Linked DNA regions of Homo sapiens: region 2 is linked to region 1. The links come from fine-mapping of genetic effects on gene expression. A gene starts in region 1. The other region holds a variant in brackets. All regions are shown on one strand. Distances are from middle to middle. Region 1 holds the start of SERPINE2 (serpin family E member 2). Region 2 holds the start of LOC124907990 (a long non-coding RNA gene).

What was found.
Region 2: its variant is fine-mapped to the expression of SERPINE2 in whole blood (INTERVAL, PIP above 0.99). The same link has a PIP of 0.9 or more in blood mononuclear cells.

What each region holds. Positions count from the first base shown.
Region 1 is chr2:224,034,729-224,045,742 of GRCh38, forward strand. It overlaps SERPINE2 (serpin family E member 2), which reads right to left and starts at 4,558. Exons shown (of 9, transcript NM_001136528.2): 1 at 4,371-4,558. It overlaps LOC124907991 (a long non-coding RNA gene), which reads left to right and starts at 4,674. Exons shown (of 2, transcript XR_007088103.1): 1 at 4,674-4,814; 2 at 6,990-7,764. RefSeq lists a silencer at 4,724-5,018.
Region 2 is chr2:224,004,922-224,015,935 of GRCh38, forward strand. All of the region lies in intron 1 of SERPINE2 (serpin family E member 2), which reads right to left. LOC124907990 (a long non-coding RNA gene) reads left to right here and starts at 3,956. Exons shown (of 2, transcript XR_007088102.1): 1 at 3,956-4,236. RefSeq lists enhancers at 4,377-5,576, 4,501-5,076, 10,167-10,666. The variant G/A (reference allele first, on the strand shown) is at 5,236.

The DNA.
Region 1 (11,014 bases):
CATATTTACAGACTCCCCACTGCTGTTTGGGATATAGAATCGACCCTGCCCTATCTCCACCCAGGGGGGCTGCGAGGAAGTGGGGCAGTAGTCAGGCTTGTAGAAATGCTTTGTAAACAGCAGGACTGTCATCAACACTAGAACTCTGTATTAACTACCCTACAGAAGCTCAAAAGCATCTTCAGAAACTCGGGTACAACACTGTATAAAGATAGCGGAGAGCTCATCTTTCAATCTTGAGATACCAAACTTGTGATATGACATGGCCACTCCTTTAGAGTCAGGGATTTAAGCCCAGATCAAGAGGGAGCCATTGAATTTTATTAGGAGGGACCCAAGAAGACTTGGATTTGGGGCAGCAGGAGGAAAGTCACACCAGCAATAACATGGAAGAGAGTTAGAAGGGATGCAACATGAGGTGCACGACACTGTGCAGTAAGCACTAGGCATTCCCAGGCTGTCGATGATCGTCTCAGCCTAGGGTCTCTAGCTCTGAAGCCCATGGGAGCCAGAACGCCACTATAAGCAAGGGTCACAGGTCTGGGGGAACCAGAAAGCAACCTACCTCCAGTGTATTCAGGCACTGGAAACCCAGCAGCAGCTGAGGTTTGCCACATGGGAATGTAAGCTTCCTATTCCAGGTTTTTTTTGTTTTGTTTTTGTTTTTGTTTTGAGACAGAGTCTCACTCTTTCACCCAGGCTCGAGAACAGTGGCGCCATCTCAGCTCACTGCAACCTCTGCCTCCCGGGTTCAAGCGATTCTCCTGCCTCAGCCTCCCGAGTAGCTGGGATTATAGGCGCAGCTAATTTTTGTATTTTTAGTAGAGACGCGGTTTTACCATGTTGATCAGGCTGGTCTTGAACTCCTGACCTCAAGTGATCCGCCTGGTTCAGCCTCCCACAGTGCTGGGATTACAGGTATGAGCCACCACGCACTGCCTCATCCAGGTCTTCTGGCTTTTAGGAGAAGCTATACATCCAAGTGGCATCTCCAGATTTCTAAATATTAACTCAAGTTGTATATACTTTGTTCAGGCCAACAACACTGCTGCCTACTGCTAGAAGTGGCACACCGGCCACCATTTTGCCACTTTTGGGCTCTAAAGCAAGGCAAGGCCAGCGTGACTAGAGCGGACCTTTGTGGAATTTCACAGCATGAAGAAGCAACAGGATCTGGTGACAGCCTGCATGTGGGCAGTGCGGGAGCCTGGCATCACCGTGAGACCCCTGCTCCAACATCTCCATGAACGGTGGAACCACTGCCAAAAAAAAACGGACAAATCTTCGCTAACAATGAAGCGGATATGGGGTGGGTGGTGAAAACTAAAATCAATTTTGGATTTATTTTGGGGTGTTTTTTTGGCCTAAAGGGCACGGGTAAGCGCACCAGACTGCAGGTAACTGATTGGAACACAGGAGCATGCTCAAGCTAGCTTAACATGCCAATCTGGGACTCGCTTCATATTGGTGAGAGTCGAAGCTGTGGGAACATGGTTCACCCAAATACACAGAGCACAAAAGGGATGACAGCGAACCCTGGGTAACCCCAAGAGGTAGCAGAGATGCCAGGGAGGAATAAGGAAAACCAGAAGGTGGCAACCAGGGATGGAAAAAAAAAAAAAAACCATCAGAAAGGAATAGAAGAACCTCATCAAATGCCACGGAGAAACCTAGTGGGTATCCATAAGATTGCTTGTTCAGATGAGAACACAGGGACACAGGGAGGGAAACATCACACACTGGGGCCTGTGGTGGGGGGCGGGGAGTGAGGTAGGGGAGGGATAGCATTAGGAGAAATACCTAATGTGATGGGTTGATGGGTGCAGCAAACCACCATGGCACGTGTATACCTATGTAACAAACCTGCACGTTCTGCACATGTACCCCAGAGCTTAAAGCATATTAATAAAAATTAAAAAAAAAAAAAAAAGATTGCTTGTTCAGGAAGTCACAGGCCTTGAACTTTGAGGAGACTCTGGCCAGCTTGCAAAGAGCTGAACAGGAAGGGCAGACCAGTTTAAGAAGCCTGGAGAGACGTGGTTGTCACTACAGGTGAGCTGAGGATGCAGGGACAAGGGAGGTTAAGGCATTCTTAAAATACTACTAAAAAAGAAAAAAGCTCACAGGGAGAGACTGAAGATAAAAGTAAGAAAAGGGAGTAACACTCACAAGGAGAGAGAGGCACTGGGAGTTGGGATTCAGGACACAGCTGGAGACATTAGTCACTGCCCCAAGGAGGCCATCTCTCTATATTTCTCTAAGTTCTCAGTCTAACTTGATTTTTCTTTATAATTCTACCTTATTCATTTATCATACATTTTACAACATATTATGTTTGCTTTTAGTTGGTTTTCTCCCACAAGAATGACAGTTTCAAGCGAGCAAGGATCTGCTCTATTTACCACCTATGAGTATCCAACAAAGTACCCAGACACAGTAGATGCTTAAGAAGATTTATTGGATGACTGGGTAAACACAGAAAAGTCTGTACAGGGGAGATGGGGGAGGACGTGAGGAGATACTTATGACCTCTATTCTCCTGGTAGAATGGGCTACAAAGTCACCTGCCAAACCCGCAAGAGGAAAAGCATTGGAGATCGCTTGCATTGAAGATTACAGTGGGAGTCCGGTTTGCAACCCGGAAGGAAGGAGCTTGCGGGTTGGAGGCACTAAGAGTTTTCAGAAGTTGAGCATCTCAAGAGAGGGCAAGACTTGGAGGTACTTAGAGGACTTGGTAGCTGGAGTACATGGAAGACACTGGATTTGAGACAGTCAAGGAAGTGCGCATCTAGAGCGTCCCCCACATGGACTTTAGGTCTAGAGGAGGAGAAATAGCCCAAGAGCCAAAGTCCCCATGCGATGGGAAAAGAACTGGCTGGAAGAGGACAGCAAGGCTGAGATGCACCCAGGGACGTGGCCAGGTCACCACCTCATTTCCAACTCTACCACCTCAAACAATCTCTGACTGGTATTTAATCACCCTTGTGTGGAAGTGAAAATTAGCTTTTTTTGGAGACAGTACTTTTAAAATTAAACTAATATGAAGTTCATGGGACACGGAAATTTTCTGCATAGATTCATTTTTGTTTTTAGAATAAAATACGATGACATTTTCATGACCTTCAGTAATTGCCCTGCATGGTACGATATTTTCAAACATTATTTTAACAAAGAATCAAAATTTGGGGGTTAAAAGAAACCTTAGATTACTCAGGTTAGTACCTTCATTTGCATAGCCAAAAATTTTTCTATTGAAATACTGCAAATAGCAAATAAGTACTGATTTAGACCTTCAGATAGTGTTGAAACTGTCTTCAATTTTCGAAGTGTGGTTTAGGATATACAAATTAGCAATGTTGACAATTCTTCCAGTTATCTGTGCTCAAGTTTTGATATAAAATCTTCAAAGTACACAATTATCACATATATTGTTCCACAACAATTCAGACAAATAAACGGCTTCTTGGCTTGAAAGAGGAAGTCACACCTTCGAACACCTTTTTATGCTGATGCTAAATATAAGAACGTCCCCTGCAAAGTAGCCAAAGCAAGACAGCAGCATTCGAGATTTCTCCAGAGACACACACACAAAGAATGTGTTTCGTTCATTAAAACACTAAAACCTTCAACAGCATCTTCCATAATACCTGAAGGTGGAGTGCTGTCTTATGTAATAGAAGCCTTCCTTCCCCGCTCAGTTTGTGGACACATTAAATGCCTAATTCCTTCCAGAATTTCTGAGTACCGTACTTTCATTTTACCTGCAGTCACTCATCCGCCTCGCAACTCCCGTTTCTACAGATGATGAAAATAGCAAAGACCTGCTCGCTCGGGTTAAATCGGCTGCCAGAGGCCAAGTTAAAGGCTTTCCCCACACCGCGCGTCACCTCCCTCTGCCCAGGCAGAGGTAACAAGTAAGAGTGCGCCAGTCTCTCCCCATCCGGCGGCGCGCAGCCTAAGTCCGGGGTAGGGGTTGCCGGCGAGCAGCTGGAAACCTCAGGTTCAGGGTCAGGGCCGGCTCGGATGGCCGGGCAGGAGCCACGCCGGCCCCGGTGCTCCCAGCTGCGGGTATCACTGGACGCCACCCCGGGGCGGCCCCGCCTTGCCCTGCCCGGGTCCCGCTCGGGGCTCCCGGCGGGCGGGACCGGGATGCCCGGCGAGCACCCAGCCCCGGCCAAGGCGGCCCGCGGGAGGCTGAGAAAGTTCTCTGCTCCCCGACGTCGGCGCCCCAGGGTCCCGCTGGCCCCGCAGCTTCCCGGCCGGGCGCAAGGTCAGGGAGCAGGGCCGGTGGCGCGCGGAGCCCCGGGGAGCGTCCCCCGCCGAGGGCAGCGCCGGCCGCGCCCGGGACTCACCGCGCAGCCTGTACTCACCGCGCTCGCTGGATCCCCAGGGGGCGGCCGCGGAGGGCGGTGCGGCCGCAACCGGAGCGGGAGCCTGGTCTCGGCGGCGCGGGGAGTCGGAGGACGCAGCCAAGCGGCGGCGGCGAGGAGGGTCACAGCCGGAAAGAGGCAGCGGTGGCGCCTGCAGACGCCGCGCAGCCCGGGCAGCCCCACAGCGCAAGCTGGCTGCCGCGGCGGCGGGGGCTTTATCGGCGGCGCCGCGCGGGCCCCCGCCCCTTCCTGCCGCCCCCGCCCCCGGCCCGCCTTGCCCCGCCTTCCCGCCGCCTCCTTTGTGTGGCCGCGGGCCGCAGCGTCCCCGCGCCCGGCCTCCAGGACGCCCCCTCTCCGCCTGCGACTTCTCGGATGCCGCCCCGCCAGGGGTCCGTGTCGTGGGGCTGCGCCCGGAACGCGCCGGGGAGACGCGCAGACCCCGAGGTGCGGCGCCAGCCCGGGCCCAGCTGCACGTGGGTCTCCCGGATGGGGGTGTGTGAGGTGGCGGGGGGAATACCAGGGCTCGTACCGCGTCCCTGAGACGCAGGGCATGTCGTCTTGGCTGCCCCCTGGAAGAGACAGAGGGCGCCCTGAGACAGCGCTCAGTCCTCCGGGTGATGGGGAAACGGTGCCAGGACGCGGCCGGGAAGGGGCAGATAACCCCTCGAGGCGTTTTGCAGGGTGTCCTAGAGCTGACTTCTCCCTGCCTAGGGGACAGAGGAACGGCGGCAAGTCGCCTTAGGCAAATACAGACGAGGGGAACCAGAAAACTGGATTCCCGGCTATGGTGATAGCATGAGGTACCCGCAGCGTCCTGGGAACCCAGCCCTTCTCAGCCGGTAACCACTGCTGCTGGGACCCGGTGCGCGATAGACAGGCACATACCCCAGGGGCCTGCAACAAATGACCGTCCCGCTCCGGGCTCTGTTACCTGGACCTCTCTTAGTTGGTTCCTCCTTTGCCTCTAGTTAGGTTTCTGGGGACCCAAGGACCCAACTTTAATGACAGTAATTTATGTAGCCGTTAGTGTAGAATCGTCGCTAGCAGGCAGACGGCCCCAACAGCGAGGAAGAAATGTAAATCTCCCTATACACAGCCCTGGATTAAGGGTACAGCTACTGATGAGAGCCACTTGGAAGATCAGCCTGCAGTCACCCCTTGGCATGCAGGTGGCCGTGCCAGAGTGTGCACGTGTGTGTTGGGGAAGGGGTTGCTCTGAAAAGTGTAAAATCTGGACCAGCCTAAGGGTGTTCTCAGTCTCTCATAGAGGGAAACAGGCTATGGGAGGCTTGGTCCTAAAATAAGGAGCAAACAGTCTACAAAAATGAGCATCTGTTTAATTATTTTACAGTCATACCAAATATTTATATTCAGTTACAGGGTAACTTTCTTATTCTCTGTGCCTGAAATGCTTTTTGTCCCAGGATCTTCTATGTTGTCTGCATCCTTACACTTGAGGTCACAACTCAAATGTCCTCTCCCCTAGGAAGCCTCCCCTGACCACTTGAGATAAAGTCACTTTATCCCCTCTAACCTATGACTTCCTTCATAACCCTCATCATGAATTGATTTTTTTTTTACCTTGTTTCTTGCTAGTTTTCTTCTACTCTCTCTCATTGGAATATACTCCCAGAGACCAGGGAAGAGAAACTAATTTCAATATTGTTTCCAACTCACTCTATCCCTAGTGCCTAGAGCCATACCACACATATAGCAGTTACTCAATAAATTTTGTTGACGAGTGGATGAACTACTAGCCAAGTGACTTTTAGACATGCTAAGAACTGTTTCAGTGACAGTATTGTGCTTGGTCCAGTCAGGGCGGTGTGGGCTGGAGCTGGGAACAATTCAAAGGAGGGGGGAAAGCCCACAGGTGTGAATGAGCTCGTTCAGTGTGTTTGAAAAGCTGGGAGTATCCTCTTCCAGATGGAAGGGAGTCATTCAAGAAACTACTGGAGAAATAACTGGGAAATGTGGGTGAAGCCAGATTATTATGAAAATGTGCCAGAATCCCTGCATCCATTTCTGTCTCAATCACATTTCTAAATTAAAATTTGTAATAGAGGTAATTGTAGGCTGGCATGCAGTTGTTAAGAAATGATTCAGAGAGGTCTCTTTTACACTTTGCCAAGTCTTCCTCATGGTAACATTTTGCAAAACCATTGTATAATATCACAATCAGGATATTAACATTGATACGTTGATTCCTATCTCACACACTTTGGTTAATTATGTGTAACTTTAAATTTTTACTAAAGTTACTCAAACCAGTGAGAGAAATGCACAAAATTACTATTTTGAAGAGTTTCAGTCTCTTGTCTTGAAGGAGCCAATGTTTTTCAAGAAAAAACAACAACAAGCCTTTTTTGCTTTCCCAATTAGAGTGTAAATAGGGTCCAAATTCTTCATCTATGAAAGACGTTAGAAGTCCTTAGGACTTACCTCTTTGGGTTACACTTTAATGACTGACATTTACTTCCCCATTCTTTCCTGTAGTGTCGAAGGAACATTTTGAGCAATACTGTACGTGACTTGTCAATTCTGAAATCACAGTGGATGCAGTGCTAACTAATATGCTAAAGTAAGCCTAGACACTAATGTTCCCTTCTCTCTCGCTAGACATGCGATGAGGCCAACGATGAGGTCTCCCAAAGGAAAGTGATTGAAGACAAAGACCCATTCTGCCAGTGGGATATGCTGGGAATACCAACTATACTTGTTACTGAGTGTGCATGGCTGGTGTTGGCCAGCCTTCCTGATGCCAGCAAGAGGAGACAGAAGTAATGACCCAAGCTACACTTTCCATGACACTCAAATGGCCAGGCTCTTTGACACCCACCGTGAGGGGCTGTTCCAAAGATGTTGTGTTCCTACCTCAGTTGGTCCCCACAAGCAGCAGGTTCCTCCTCCAGTATTCTCCAATATTTGACCCTTTTTGAGATGCATTTCTCATAGATGTGTACTTCCAATCCACATTTCCTTCCTACCTCTACCTCGGTTTTGTTTGAGAAATCCAAATCATTTAACACTTCTACCTGCTGTTTCTTTGTGACTTCACATTCACAGTGAAATTTCATTTTGTCCTGCAATTGTGTGGCTTGCCTTAATCCGCAAATAGAGCTTCAAATTGTTTATTCCTTTGACCTGGAGTTTAGCCAGCTCCAGCTAGGCTCTGAGTTTGGCTTTGTGTCCATAAGCCACAGTTGGGAGAAATGCAAGAACTGCCCAAACAGAATAAAACAAATGATCTATTTAGTCTTGTTTCCTCTCTTGGAAGAAGTCCAGCGTTGAGTGCCTTGGAATAAATGAAAATCCCCCACCCCACCTCCACTGCTCTCCCATGCACCCAAACAGTATGACCTTGTGTTTAAGTAAAAACCGTCCTTAGCTCCCAGTGGGATGATGGTGTTTTGTCTGGAAGACTGACGGATGTTATGATAATAAGATAATGGATACTCACTTCTCTCCTATCTAACCCCTATTTAAAAGACATTACACCGTAACAGTGCTTGTTACGCAATATTATAGTTGCAAATGTTGTTATGGAAGATTGTTTCAACCAGGGGAAAAGAGACTGGTAATAACAGTACACTTATACAATTAGTTTCTGAAACTGTTGCATTGCTTTGGGGTTTTTTTTTTTAGCTTAGAAAAGACATTTATCTTTTTATTTCCCTTTAAAGTTGGCTTTCAAATAAATTCAATTTCCTCTTTCTGTAACTTCTGAAACAGATTAAACCAGAGCATCAGTTTGCACTTTGCTATTGTCGTCACTAGTTTTCACCAAGAGCTTCAGAGAAAAGACATTACTAAGTGCTGGGCTGGGTATTATTTTCTACTTATATGTGACCAAATAGGATGTAACAGCCAGGTTCTGAGAGTCGTTGTGATACTGACCCCTTCAAACAACAGCCCAGCTGCTCTCCTTCCTTTTACCACCAAACAATAGATGCTGCCTCCCTTTTTCCATGGGTCTCTTCGGTCAATCTTCTTACCCCATCATCGGGCTCCCCTCCTTTTCTTCCTCGCTTCCTCGGGCCCTCCTTCTCTCCCAAATGTTACCAATAGCTTCCAATGGCAACCCCAGTAGTTTTTCAACATTCTTTATCACCTTTGAGTCCTTGGCAGGATTTCACTCTCATATGTGTGCCCATTTTTTGGAAACTCCTTTGCCTATTTTCTCTCTTCCTATGCCTTAACTTGCCTTTATCCTTTTTCCATCAAATCTTCCAACAGGTGGGCACCATGCAGTTGACTGTCCTCAGCTCCCTCCTCTTTTCTCCACACTCTCTCCCAGTGGAACGAACATTGATTTATCTGTGGCCACCAACACTTGTTCCCCTCCTCACCTTTTGATAGTGGAAACACCTCTTCTATTTTATGCAGCATTTTGTTGGGAAGGAAATCAAGGTATCCTTACTTTCACTAGCCAAGGGATGGGCATATGACCAAGCTCACTGGATTCCCTCCCAGTTCTTTGAATCTTGAAAAGAATGAAAAAGTAATTGCAGCTGACTTATCTCAGCTTGATGAATGATGAATTTGTGAGTTCTTCCTACCCGGACCTCAGAGCTGCCATAGACCCTGTCCCGTCTGAGCAGAGGTCCACAGTGAACTCTGTTTCTGTGAGACTTTTCTACTTGTTAGCCAGATTCAGTTTCTGTTGCCAGCAACCTAGGATGCCTAACTGACATACCTTAAATGTCTGTAACTTTGCTTAGTTCTGGATGAATTCTAAGCCCATATCTACAGATGGCCTTGGCCACCATCCCAAGGTACCACTCATCTATCTCCAAGTGCCTGGCAGACACCTCCACTTAATATCCCACCATCACCTCCCACCTAACAAGTCAAACCCACTTATTATCTTCATCCCCCAACCAGTTCTTCCTCCTGTGTTCCATGTGTTTTACAGACATGACTTCCATCTCAGTCACCAAAGCACAAAGATGGGAATGAATTCTTTCTTTCTTTCTTCTTTCCTTCCTTCCTTCCTTCCTTCCTTCCTTTTTCTTTCTTTCCCTCTTTCTTTTCTTTCTTTCTTTCTTTCTTTCTTTCTTTCTTTCTTTCTTTCTTTCTTTCTTTCTTTCTTTCTCTTTCTTTCTTTTTCCCTCCTTCCTTCCTTCCTTTCTTTTTGAGACAGAGTGTCACTCTTGTCACCCAGGCTGGAGTGCAGTGGCATGATCTCAGCTCACTGCAACCTCTGCCTCCCGGATTCAAGTGATTCTCCTTCCTCAGCCTCCCAAGTAGCTGGGATTACAGGCGTGCACCACCATGCCTGGCTACTTTTTTGTATTTTTAGTAGAGAGGGGGTTTCACCATGTTGGCCAGACTGGTCTCGAACTCCTGACCTCAGGCAATCCACCTGCCTCAGCCTCCCAAAGTGCTGGGATTACAGGTGTGAGCCACCGCACCCAGCCCCTTTTCTTTTTTTTATTCATCCCATTTCCAGCAATTCCTTAGGTGCTGTTAGTAGTTTTTAAATTTTTTCCCCCAAGTCCCTCTGAGTCACCCCTCTTCCATTTTTTCAAGTCAGTTCAAACTCTTACCACTCCAATAGCACCCTAACTATTCTCTCAGCTTCCAGATTCTATCTGTAACTGCCAGCTTAGTCTTTCTAAAGTGCTTTTTCGGTCATGCCACTCCCCAGCTTAAAATAATTCCACTGTTCATCACGAAGGTTCCGATTCCTTGGTTTAGTCAGTCTTCTGTAGAGGTTATGAACACAGGCTCTGAAGTTAGATTGCCTGTGTTCAAATCCCAGTCTCATCACTACGCAATTTTTTTCAAGTAATTTAACCTGTGAGCCTCAGTGTCCATTTTGTAAAATGGGGGATAATAATAGAATAACCCACTCATAGGGCTATGTGAGGATTGTGTAGTTAATTCATGAAAAGAACTGAGTATTTGACACATAAATGCTTAATAAAAATTTACTACAATGAAAGCTCTCTACAATTTAACCCCAACCCACCTTTCTTGCATTATCTTTTCATTTTCTCTATGTTCTTAAAGGCTTTCCCAATCAGAATTACTCACCTATATCAAAATTGTATTTTTTATGTCATCATGCCATTGTTTAAACCATTCTCTCTGACCTGAATACCCTTTTCTTACTCCACCTGTATCAGTTATCTAGTGTTGCATTACAAACTATCTTTTTTTTTTTTTTTTTTGAGACAGAGTTTCTCTCTTGTTACCCAGGCTGGAGTGCAATGGTGTGATCTCAGCTCACTGCAACCTCCACATCCCAGGTTCAAGCGATTCTCCTGCCTCAGCCTCCTGCTTAGCTGGGATTACAGGCGCCTAACACCACCCCAGCTAATTTTCATATTTTTAGTAGAGACATGGTTTTGCCATGTTGGCCAGGCTGGTCTCAAACTCCTGACCTCAGGTGATCTGCCTGCCTCAGCCTCCCAAAGTGCTGGGATTATAGGCATGAGCCACCACGCCCGGCCCTACTATCCCAAATTTTAATGGCTTAAAATAACAACCATTTTATTTGTTTGTGATGGTATGGGTTGGATGGGCATGGTTTGGCTGGGATGGTTCACTCTGCTCCACCTCCTGTTGTCTGACCTCACTCTTGCAGCCGTAGGACTCCAGGTGGCCTCACTCATGCATGTGGACTCTCAGAGAGAAGG
Region 2 (11,014 bases), 30 kb before region 1:
TTCAGAAGACATGAACATTAAACTGGTTTTGCCTCTGGTAGCTTAAAGTTGATAGACTCAAATACTACATATATATTATATATATGTAGTATTATATATTATATTATATAATATATAAATATATTTTATATATTTTATATATATTATATATATATATATATATATATATATATATAAAACATTGTAAAAACAGGGTGAAAGGATCAGTGACAGTGAGAAATCTAACAGCTCCAATGTCTTAAAGTCACAAGGACAGTCTCCCAAATAAACAGCCATCTTATTTAGCAGAATTCTGCTTCATTATAAATTTTCGCTAAAAGAACAGTTTTCCTATGACACGGAAGAAAGCTGTTATGGGTGTTTTTCTGGGTTTCTTGGACTTGGGAAGTTTTTGAGAGCTGTCTATGTACAGTTTCATAAAAGTGCACTGGGACAGTGTTAGAGCTGTGCAGAACTTGGAATCAGAGCTATTTTTGATTGATGTGCTGGGCAGAACTTCTCCTTGGCCTTGGTTTCCTAGGCCAAATGCTCACTCGTCTAAACTCACCTGGCTTATATACGTGTCTAAGAATAAGCTTTCATTTTTCTCCAAAGTTCAGTAGCCAGGAGAGTGGGTGTTGATCTATAAATTACTTTAGGCCTGCATAATTCCTAACAATGAAACACACTCATGTCCAAATAGACAATCGTTTACATGAAGTAACTTGGAGTTCTCAAGCTTTGAAATGCTTGATCTCTGGAACAAGCAGATGCCATAATGGGAAGTACATAGAAACCTCCTGTTTATTTTCCTTTTTAAGAGAAATTACACTTTAAACTTTCAAATCAGAGAGAAATAAGAGTGCTGCCCAAATGTACTGCATAGCAACAAGATGGAAGATTATCATTTGCTTGAATATTGTTTCACAACAGTAAAAATAGGTCTCTAGGCCATCATTGGAGGGAAGATCATAAGCCCATCAGTAGAGCCATCGCCACAGGCATATCCTTCCAAATGCCAGGTATCTCCTTCCCTATGTTCTTCTAGTTTCTCTTACTTCAAACCTTTCTCCTTTCCAATACGGGGAATGTTTATGAAATAGCTGGGTACTGCTTTGAGTTTTAACCATGATTTAACGTAGTAAATAATGGGATGGTAGTTTTGCAAATGCCAGACTCAAAATATAACCCTAACATTTATAAATAGACTGCTTGCCAATAGCAGACATTAGAGGAACCCACTCTCTATAGACCCAATGGCGTCAACCATCTCTTCTACACAGGTGATGCTCAAATATGCAGCTCAAATCCTCAAACTCTCTGCTGAATTGCAGTGCTATACTTTCAACAGTTTGCTACCTGTTTTCACTTGATCGTTCAGAAAAATTATCCACTGGTGGGGAGGGGTACTAGTCTCCAAAAATCTACCAACTCTTCTCTTTTTCAAGAATCATAGTTTCTGTTGAAAGAGCTTGCTTACCCAAGCCCGAGCCTCTGCTTCTCTCCCTTAGCCTCCACCTAGCAACAGTGACACTTCTACCCAACTCCTTCCACGGTGTGTGTGATGTTTTTCCTGATTGTTAAAGATGAGGTTCTTTATTCTCTTCTTTGAATTCCTATAGCATTTCCTATTTGCCTGTCTCATTTTAGTTGTTTTCCAAGTATGTTTTCTTTCCTCGCAAGTAGACTGGAAGCTCACGGAAAGCAGGGACTGTAGACTCCTGGTGCCCACAGGGTCAGTTTAGGGCCTTACCATTCATTGGTAGACACAAAATCAGAGGTTGACCCGTGGGACTAATCCAGCAAGTGTTTGATGTGCAATACAGAGTATTCTAAAAATATTTTTAGCAACTAAAAGTCAAAAAATGTCACAAGTCTAGATTAGGGTTATTCTCAGGAAAAATGAAAAAGAGTGGACGTTCTAGTACTACTGGACCCTCACCCCCATGGCAAATGTTCTGCACAGACGCCACCCCTTATGGGCTGGGCACCCACTTTCCAGCGTGCCTCGCTCCCGCTGCTCCCTGCTGCCTCACACCCTGCCATGGCCGCCACTGCCATCACCTCTCCAGGCTGTGTGAGCACCTGTGACGAGACCCCTTAGCCTGGAACCAGTGCTGAACAACTGAACAGTGGCAACTAGGATAGCCAGACACAAAACATGAAGCTCATTTTCTACCTAATAAATTCTTTTTATGAAATAAAAGTTTACATATAGTGCATGAACAAATGATAAATAATATGACACTAGTCTGCTCTATGTAGCATAATAAGTAAGTTGTAGGCAGACAGCTTGGTGGGAAAAACCACTGGAAAGACTCTTCTGGGTCCATTCATAGCTGGATGGTGCACACCTATTTTGGGAGGACACAGAAGCGTCTAATGAAGGAAAAGTTCTCCATGCTCTCTCATTCTCTATAAAAGGTTTAAAGTGATCATGTTTTATAAAACATACATATATTTTTAAAAACATTATATCATGGGAAATATCAAACATATGCAAATATTTAATACTCCCCCCCATACTCAACATCCAGAAAAAACAATTATTAACTCACGGCTTGGTTTATTTCTACTCAAATCAAAGATGATTTTGGAGTTAACTGCAGACATCATATAATATCATTCAAAATAATTTCAACATATAGACTCAGCCTAAGGATTTAAAATAGATATCCATGACATCATTATCACACCGCAAAATAACTCCTTAACATGTCAAATATCTAGTCCATGTTCGCATTTTTTATAGTATATTTGAATTACGATCTAAGTAAGCTCCATACATTGCAACTGGTTACACCTCTTGCCTTTGTTTTTTTGGTTGTTTGTTTGTTTCATCTTCCACTAGTTGCTTCATTTTTAACCTTGGAATTTTTTCTGTTGAAAAAAACAGGTTATTTGCCCTGTAGAGTTTCCCCAGGGTAGATTTTGCTAACTGCATTAATGTCATGCTGTTCAACAAGTTTCTCTGTCTTCTGTCCTTCCTGTAAACTGTTAGAGCTAGAGCAGGGGTCTGCAAGCTACGGCCCATGGGCCAGATCTGGCCACGCTTTTTTCTTTGTTTATGGCTGCATCTGTGCTATGATAGGGAGCTGAGCAGAGGTGCCCGGCTGCAAGAGAGACGGTATAGCCTGCAAAGCCAAAAACAGTTATTATGTGGCCCTCTACGTGAAAAGCCTGCTGACCCCAGCTGTAGGGACTGATCAGATTCAAGTCAATTTTCTCTTTTTGTAAGAATATTTTGTAGAGGTGCCGTAGAGGGTGGTGAAATCAGTAGACGGTAGCTGACTGTCTCTTTTTGTGGTGTTAGCAAGCTACTTATGATGACCGCCTAAGTGCACTGTTTTATTAAGAGTTACCAAATGTGGGTGCTGTTATAATTCTAACTTTCCTCCCTCACTTATTAATTAGAATATTTATATAAAAAGAAGTTTTCCATAATCAACTACTTGGTTGCCCTGAGGTTTATTTTGTGTTACAAGGGCAGGACAAATTCTTCATTCATTTCCCATATCCAACAGTTTTCAAAATAATTCAAAATAGGTTGATTGACCAGAGGGTTCTATTTTCTGTATCACTATAAACTCGTGTTTTTCAACATACTTTAAGGGTCTCGATCCACTGCAAATTTATTCTTATTGGTGCTCAAAATGAGCCTCTTCACACTCGTTCTTAAACCTTCTGATACAACCCTACAGTCTTGTTAGCCTCCTTGCTTTCCGGTTTGACTAGATGTTTAGGCTCATTTTATACATCTTCTGTTCCAGATGGAATCAGCCACTTCTCCAGGGAGCTCTGGTTCCTTTTAGTGAGAAACAGTAGCACTGAGCACCCTTATCTAATAAACCCTAAATGTTTTAAACTGTGGAAATGCTGAGCAACAGTGATAAGGAAAATCCAAAGTCCATTTACACCACTCTCTGGAATATATCCAAATACTGAAATTCAAATTATGAGAGCCAGACTGGTGACTGTTTCACACCGATGGCTCAAACATCACTGGAAAATCAAATTATGAAAGACCAGCTGCTGACACTGAACGGGTTTGCCTCCCATGGCCATCTAGACCGAGGGAGGCTCGCTGGATGATGACAAGATAAAGGAGTCTGCTGGGCATTAAAAGCTGGGCTGGGAGAATCAAAGTGGATTGCCCTCGTGTGACAGCAGCGAGCCTCCTGAATCAAGCCCAGCCTAAAAATGGAATCCTAACAGTGCAGATGCCAGCGACAAACAACCGACACACAGCACGGCAAGGTGAGTCCCCGGATTTATCTCAGCCTCTCCCCTCCCCGCCCCTCAGTGAAAGCTGACACCTTCTCAGGCACTGGGAAAGTCTCGCCATCCTTCTAGTCTCTGTGTTGCTAGGATCCTGGTTCTTGGAACCTAAGGCCCCTTATTAATCTACAGGGGCTACAGCAGGTAGAGAAAAACAGCAGGTATGTTTTGTCCGAATCATGACATCTCTCAACAGCTTTTCCTGCCAGGGCTTCCCAAAGAAATAAATGTACAGGCCGGGCACGGTGGCTCAAGCCCGTAACCCCAGCACTTTGGAAGGCCGAGGTGGGCAGAGTGCTTGAGGCCAGGAGTTCGAAACCAGCCTGGCCAACATGGCTTAACCCTGTCTCTATTAGAAATACAAAAATCAGCTGGGTGTGGTAGCACATGCCTATAATCCCAGCTACTCCAGAGGCTGAGGTGTGGGAATCGCTTGAACCCAGGAGGTGGAGGCTGCAGTGAGCCGAGATTGTGCTACTGCACTCCAGCCCAGGTGACAGAGTGAGACTCTGTCTCAAAAAAAAAACAACAACAAAACAAATGTACAGGCAAGGTTTGTGGCTGCCAAACTGAGACTTCTGAATGGCCTTAAGTAAAATCGTGCTGTCCAGCATTCAGACCAAACATTTCTCATCAGTACTTTGCCAACACTCAACGGTGTTTGGCAAGAGGCATTCTAGAAACTCTTCAGGAGGTGAGCCATGGAGATTAAGGCTGTCTCTGTAAGATGACAGTAATTGTTAATGTACAAGTAATCGGGGTTAAGCCTCACATATGGTCTCTGTCTCTCAAATCTGTATAAGCATTACTGAAATAATGTCCACCAAGACCTGTATTCATTTTCCAAACATCTACCACATTTTCTTATGATACCAAATCAGGTGAACAAGCAAACTAAAGTACATCTTGGTTATCCTTGGGAAGTGTACTAAGTACTAGCAAAATGACTCAGCATCTTTAAAATTTAGAGAACAAACA[G/A]GAAATGCCAACTTATCAAGGGGACAGCAGCTTGGTAGTTTTAAAATGTGTTTTTCAGGTTAGTGGAGAAAGACTTAGAGACATCTGAATTTTTTCTTAAATTTTTGTCTGCCTTCAAAGTGTATGCTCATTCTATGACACTAATTAATTTGGCCAAAAAGGAACCTAAAAATGTTTAGGAAATACCTTTTCAGCCGCTGAAAAGTATGGCAGCAACATCCAAATGGTCCCTTCAATGAAAAGACACATATTTTATTATAAAGTACACTCTGACATCAAGTGCCTTTTATCCATATATTATCCATTCTGAAATCTCTTTGGGTTGATGGGAAAAGGCTAGGGGGAAGGAGGGGATTAGAGCTTTGTTAGCAGTCTGTCTTTTAAAATTCAAGATTACAGGATATTCATTCTATTTTCCTCTAAGTTTCCGGGAAAATTCACCTAAAGTTCAAATTCCAATCCTACTACCCATTAACCAAGAGATCCAAGGCAAGTCACAATCTTCATCCGTCTTAGCTTTGTCCTCTGCCATATTAGAAATCATATCTCAAGGGTGGCCATGGAAATTCAATAGGTGCAAACTGAAAGACATAGTAACCAGCCTAATACCTGGCTCAGAGCAAGTGTTCAGTAAATGCTGGCTCTCTTCTTCTGGTCCTCTTCAATGCTCAAGACCTGAAATACTCTGATTTGTATTTCAGCAACCATTTAGAAAGTCTCAAGGATCAAGCTAAGAAAACAGTCAAACACTGCTACCTTGATAAAGCCTTGTCTGTATCTTTATAACTTCCTTAGACTATTTAAGACTCAGAAATAAATTAAGACAATGCTGGTGCGTTTTGCCGTCTCTGTAAGAGAACTGAGGGGTCCATTACTGTGGGAATGGAGGGGGAGGGGTGAGTATGTCCCAGAAAACCTTTAATAGTGCTGAGATATGTTTTTCGGTCTGCTGACTCAGATCATTAAATCTGGTTTACCTATGTATCAAGTCCTATAGACTTTTCTTTTTGATATGTCTTTAAGACGTAATGGTCCAAATGGCTGATTTCCTAATCCAGCAACCAAGAGGTGACCCAAGACATTATAGTGACATTGACCAATGGTTCTCAATCTTTAAAAACAAGGAAGTACCTTTTTAATTTCTCTCTTCAGCAAGAGACATGGAAGTACCTTTTTTAGACATAAAAAATATTACACATAGTTCATGACCATGTTTTTAGTATTGGTAAAAATACATAAAATACAACCATGAATTCTTAAACATGTCAATAAAATCCAAATTCTTTTTATCAGTACCTAGATACATTTTAAGAAATCATATTTTGAGATATTATTTATCAATCTATAATCAAAACTGGGCCATGAACATGATTTCTCTGATCCTTTAGAATAACCCTGATATGCCTATGGGCCTCCAATTCAGAGACGAGAAACTAACACTCTCTGGATTCTTGCCAATTAAAAAATGAGTGTCAAGTGTTAGAAATGTAAATTGATTTTTTAAAAATCTTTTTTAAAGGCAATCCCTAGTACGCATAAATAATCTTAATAATGTATCTATCTATTGGAACAGTAATACCCCTTCTATCAATCAATCCTAATGTGATAATAAAAAAGATTCAGGTCCAAAAATGTTTACTATTATTTTCAGTAGCAAAAGTATTGCAATATTCTCTGCAATAAATAATTGCAATAGCAATTATAATTGCAAATTAAATCTCCAATGGAGGGGACACTGTGGGTGACCTTTTACCAGCTTTGTGCACTTATCTCCTAGTTTTTATCTGCTTTGTTGCTAATGGTTTATACCTGTTACCTCGGTCAATTACTAGTGGGAGTTGAAGGCCACTTTCTTGGTTGGCCCTAAGTGGTTGAGAGTTCACAAACACCACTCCCTCCCTGAGGACTAACAGCCATTGACTACTGGTCTGCTTGTTAACTGACTCTCCAGAGCTCCCCATGAGCTCTGAGTGTGGGACTTCACCTGGTATTTCTTGCTTGGTTTCTTCCCTTTCTAATTCCCACTTCTCCCCTTCCCTTACTATTTCAACTGGGAGCACTTCCTAATGAATCACTTGCACTTTATGCTTGGCTCAGGGATTGCTTCTGGGAGAACATAACCTAAAATGTCCAACAATAAGGAACAGTTAATGACATCCATCCAACACAATATCCTTTGGCTGTTAAGAACCTATCTCTGAAGAAAACTTAAAGACATGGTAATACATTCTGGATATATCTTAACTGGAAAAAAGTATGGTATAATTAACTATGTAAAAATTATACACAGGCACAAATTAGCCAGGTGTGGTGGCGGGTGCTTGTAGTGCCAGCTACTTGGGAGGCTGAGGCAGGAGAATGGCGTGAACCCAGGAGGCAGAGCTTGCAGTGAGCCGAGATCCCACCACTGCACTCCAGTCTGGGCGACAGAGCGAGACTCCATCCCAAAAAAAAAAAAAAAATTATACACAGGCACAAAAAAAGACTAACAGGACAGATATTAAAATATCTATATAGTTATTTCTGATGGTGGGAATATGAATATTTATTATTCTGTATACCGTTATGTAGCCTTCAAAATTTCTGTAATGAAATCACCACTTATAACAAGCATCCCTTTTCCTTTTATCAGGAACTGAGACTCTGGAATAGCTGAAATGTGTTCTAAAGGGGAGCAGAGAAGGTTATGGAGCACAACAGTGGCTAAACCAAAGGATCATAAAACTTTAATAAAAATGGTATTTACTGGAAAAGGAGAAAGAGTTGAGAAATAATAAAGTGGAATCTTTTTATATACACTAAGATGAATGTTACACCCCATTACAACCCACAGACCATTTCATGTTGAGTTTTTTCAGTAAATGGTGGTGTTATTTTGGTGAACATGATTTGACCTATGTATGTGGCCAAATCTACATATTAGATATTTAATGGTGGGGATTATGACTTAATTTTTTTATTCTCTGTGTTTAGCATAGTACCTGGTATATAGTAGTAACTCAATATATGTTGGGTTTCCTTGCCTTTCTCCCCGGCTCACTGAAATAGGAACGTGGGAGCTGCTGAGTTCCTGCCTGATAAAACCCCATATCCTCCATGAACACTGCCAAAGTGGTGCTCTCACAGCCTAGAAAAGGCATCTCTGTTTATCCATAAGGCATGGACTCTCCTTGTGAGAAAAAGAGGGCCTCCCAGCAGACAGGACAGGCCCTCCTTCAGGTGGCCTTTCTGGGGTGACTTGCACAGGGCGGTTTGGAGACCTAATGCAGTGTTCACTTGCACTTTCCCTCTAGCTGGGTCCTGCTCCCTTTTCACGAGGAAGAGGAGGGAAGCAGGGGTTTGGGCTCCGTTTTGCTTAGCTAAGCAGGTAACTGGATAAAATTGGTTTAGAAAGCTCCCAGGGAGTAAGAACAGTGGTTGTAAGAATAATTTAGATTATATATGAATGTTTTAGGTTTTTCTCTCAGTGGCTGGCTGTTCTGTTTCCTGAACCTGAATGATAGAGCTGGCTTTGGCTTAGGAAGAAAAAGGCAGCCTGTAAGGAGTGACCAGGCGGTAGGTGGGGAGGACTGGTAATGTCATCCACGGTTCCCTACTGCTGCTTTGTGGGTTTCAGGAGGTGCACCGTGTCAGGAGGCTGGGGCTCCTCTATTCCTGCAGAGGAACAGCTGCCCAGTCACTCAGCCTGGGGTTCACACCTTCCGCAGTGCTTGTTGCAGGAGGTTCAGTGTAGTGTGTGCATGTCCACCTCCAGCTGCCAAACTTCTCAACAGGATGTAGATGAACCTGGGCTGACAAATTGGATAAGGTGGGCTGGCAGGCCAAAGCTTCAATTACCAGTACCACATCCTTTCCCTTCTAGGATACACAAAAGTAACTGGCCTCATTCCTTCCTCTCCCAAATAGAGAAGCCTTGGCTTGAAAATTCCAGGGAGTGGCCATGCGAGGTGGCTCATGCCTGTAATCCTAGCCCTTTGGGAAGCCAAGGTGGGTAGGTCACTTGAGGTCAGGAGATCGAGACCATCCTGGCTAACACAGTGAAACCCCATCTCTACTAAAAATACAAAAATTAGCCAGGCATGGTGGCGCACACCTGTTATCCCAGCTGCTCAAGAGGCTGAGGCAGGGGAATCACTAGAACCGAGGAGGCAGAGGTTGAAGTGAGCCAAGATCATGCCACTGCACTCCAGCCTGAGCAACAATCAAGACACTGTCTCAAAAAAAAAGAAAAAGAAAAAAAGAAAAATTCCAGGGAGAACCACTAGGTAAATTGGTATCAATGCAGTCATTGCATTGATGAGAAACAGTCTAGGACTTCAGACGGAGACTCTGATTCTAAACTAAGGAAAGTCAGAGGGAAAGTCAGAGGGATCATTGTGTGGCGCCTGGGGCGAGAGTGGGAATGTGTGTTCTCTTGTGCCCTAGAGCAGGCTTTCTTTATCTCGGCACTACTGACATAACTCTTCAGTGTGGGGGCTGTCTTGGGTACTGCATAAGGAAACCCATATCCACCTGAATACAGAAGACTCTAGATTCTCCTGGGTCTCAAGTGCCCAACAAAACCCACTTTGTTCCTTTGAAGTCAGGGTAGCATTTCCAAGGCTGCCGTGTAAACAAGTGTCCCCTATTAAGTTGGTTTATCCCTTAATTTATCCTACAAATATTAATGAAGCACCACAGTGCCAGGCCTGGCGCTGGGATGCTAGAGAGAGAATAGGCATGAAAAGGGGCTTGGTACCTGCCCTCCCACCTCTCAGAGTCTCAAGGCATGGTTCTCCACCTGGGTGACTCTGTCGCTCAGGGAGCATTTGGCACTATCTGAAGACATTTTTTTTGGTTTTCACCACTAGGTGGGGGCCAGGGAGGGTGGTGCCATGGCATCTGGTAGGTGGGGGCCAGGGAGGGTGGTGCCGTGGCATCTGCTAGGTGGGGGGAGGCCAGGGGTGCTGCTGAGCAGCACCCACAATGCACAAGACAGCCGCCTGCAACAAAGAATTATCCAGCGAAATGTCAGTAGTGCCAAGGTTGGGGAAGCCTGGTCTAGAGGGGAAACAGACCTTAATCAAATCGTCTTATTACTTGATATTTACTTTCATTTTCACGTATTTACTTTACAAATGCTCTGACATCGAGGAGAGTGTGTAAGAATGGAAGCAGAGGCACACCTGGGCCAGGGTGAGAGGCAGTGGCCAGGGAAGTGCTCCTGGGAAGGGCCACATGGGCAGACATTGGAGGATGGACTGGAAGTGACTGGACAAAGGGGCGGAGAGATGGAAGCAAGGAAGAGTATTCCAGACAGAAGCTCTCAAGTGCAAACAAACCTTGTGTTGGGAGGTACCATGGATTATTCTGGAAATATTTTTCCTTTCATACCATCATCACCTTACAGCCTTTGCAAGACAAGGGCAACTCTGTGTCCATGACTCCAACAAATAGGCAGCTCATCAAGACATACTGCAGAACCCAACCGGACAGAAACTGGAAGAATCATTCACACTCCAGTGTCTATCTTGTTCCATGGCTCTCTTTCTCACCACCCGGCACTGCGCATGACAACAGGCAGGAATCAAAACCCTAAGTTGACATTAAAAGCCTGAGTTTCATAAAACGAAAAACTGATAAACTGAAAAACTGATCAATTGGACCTCATCAAAATGAAAAGTTTTACTCTGCAAAAGATCCTGCAAAGATGATGAAGAGACTAGGAGAAAATATTCTCCAATCACGTATCTGTCAAGGGACTAGTATCTAGACTACACAGAAAACTCTTAAACCCCAA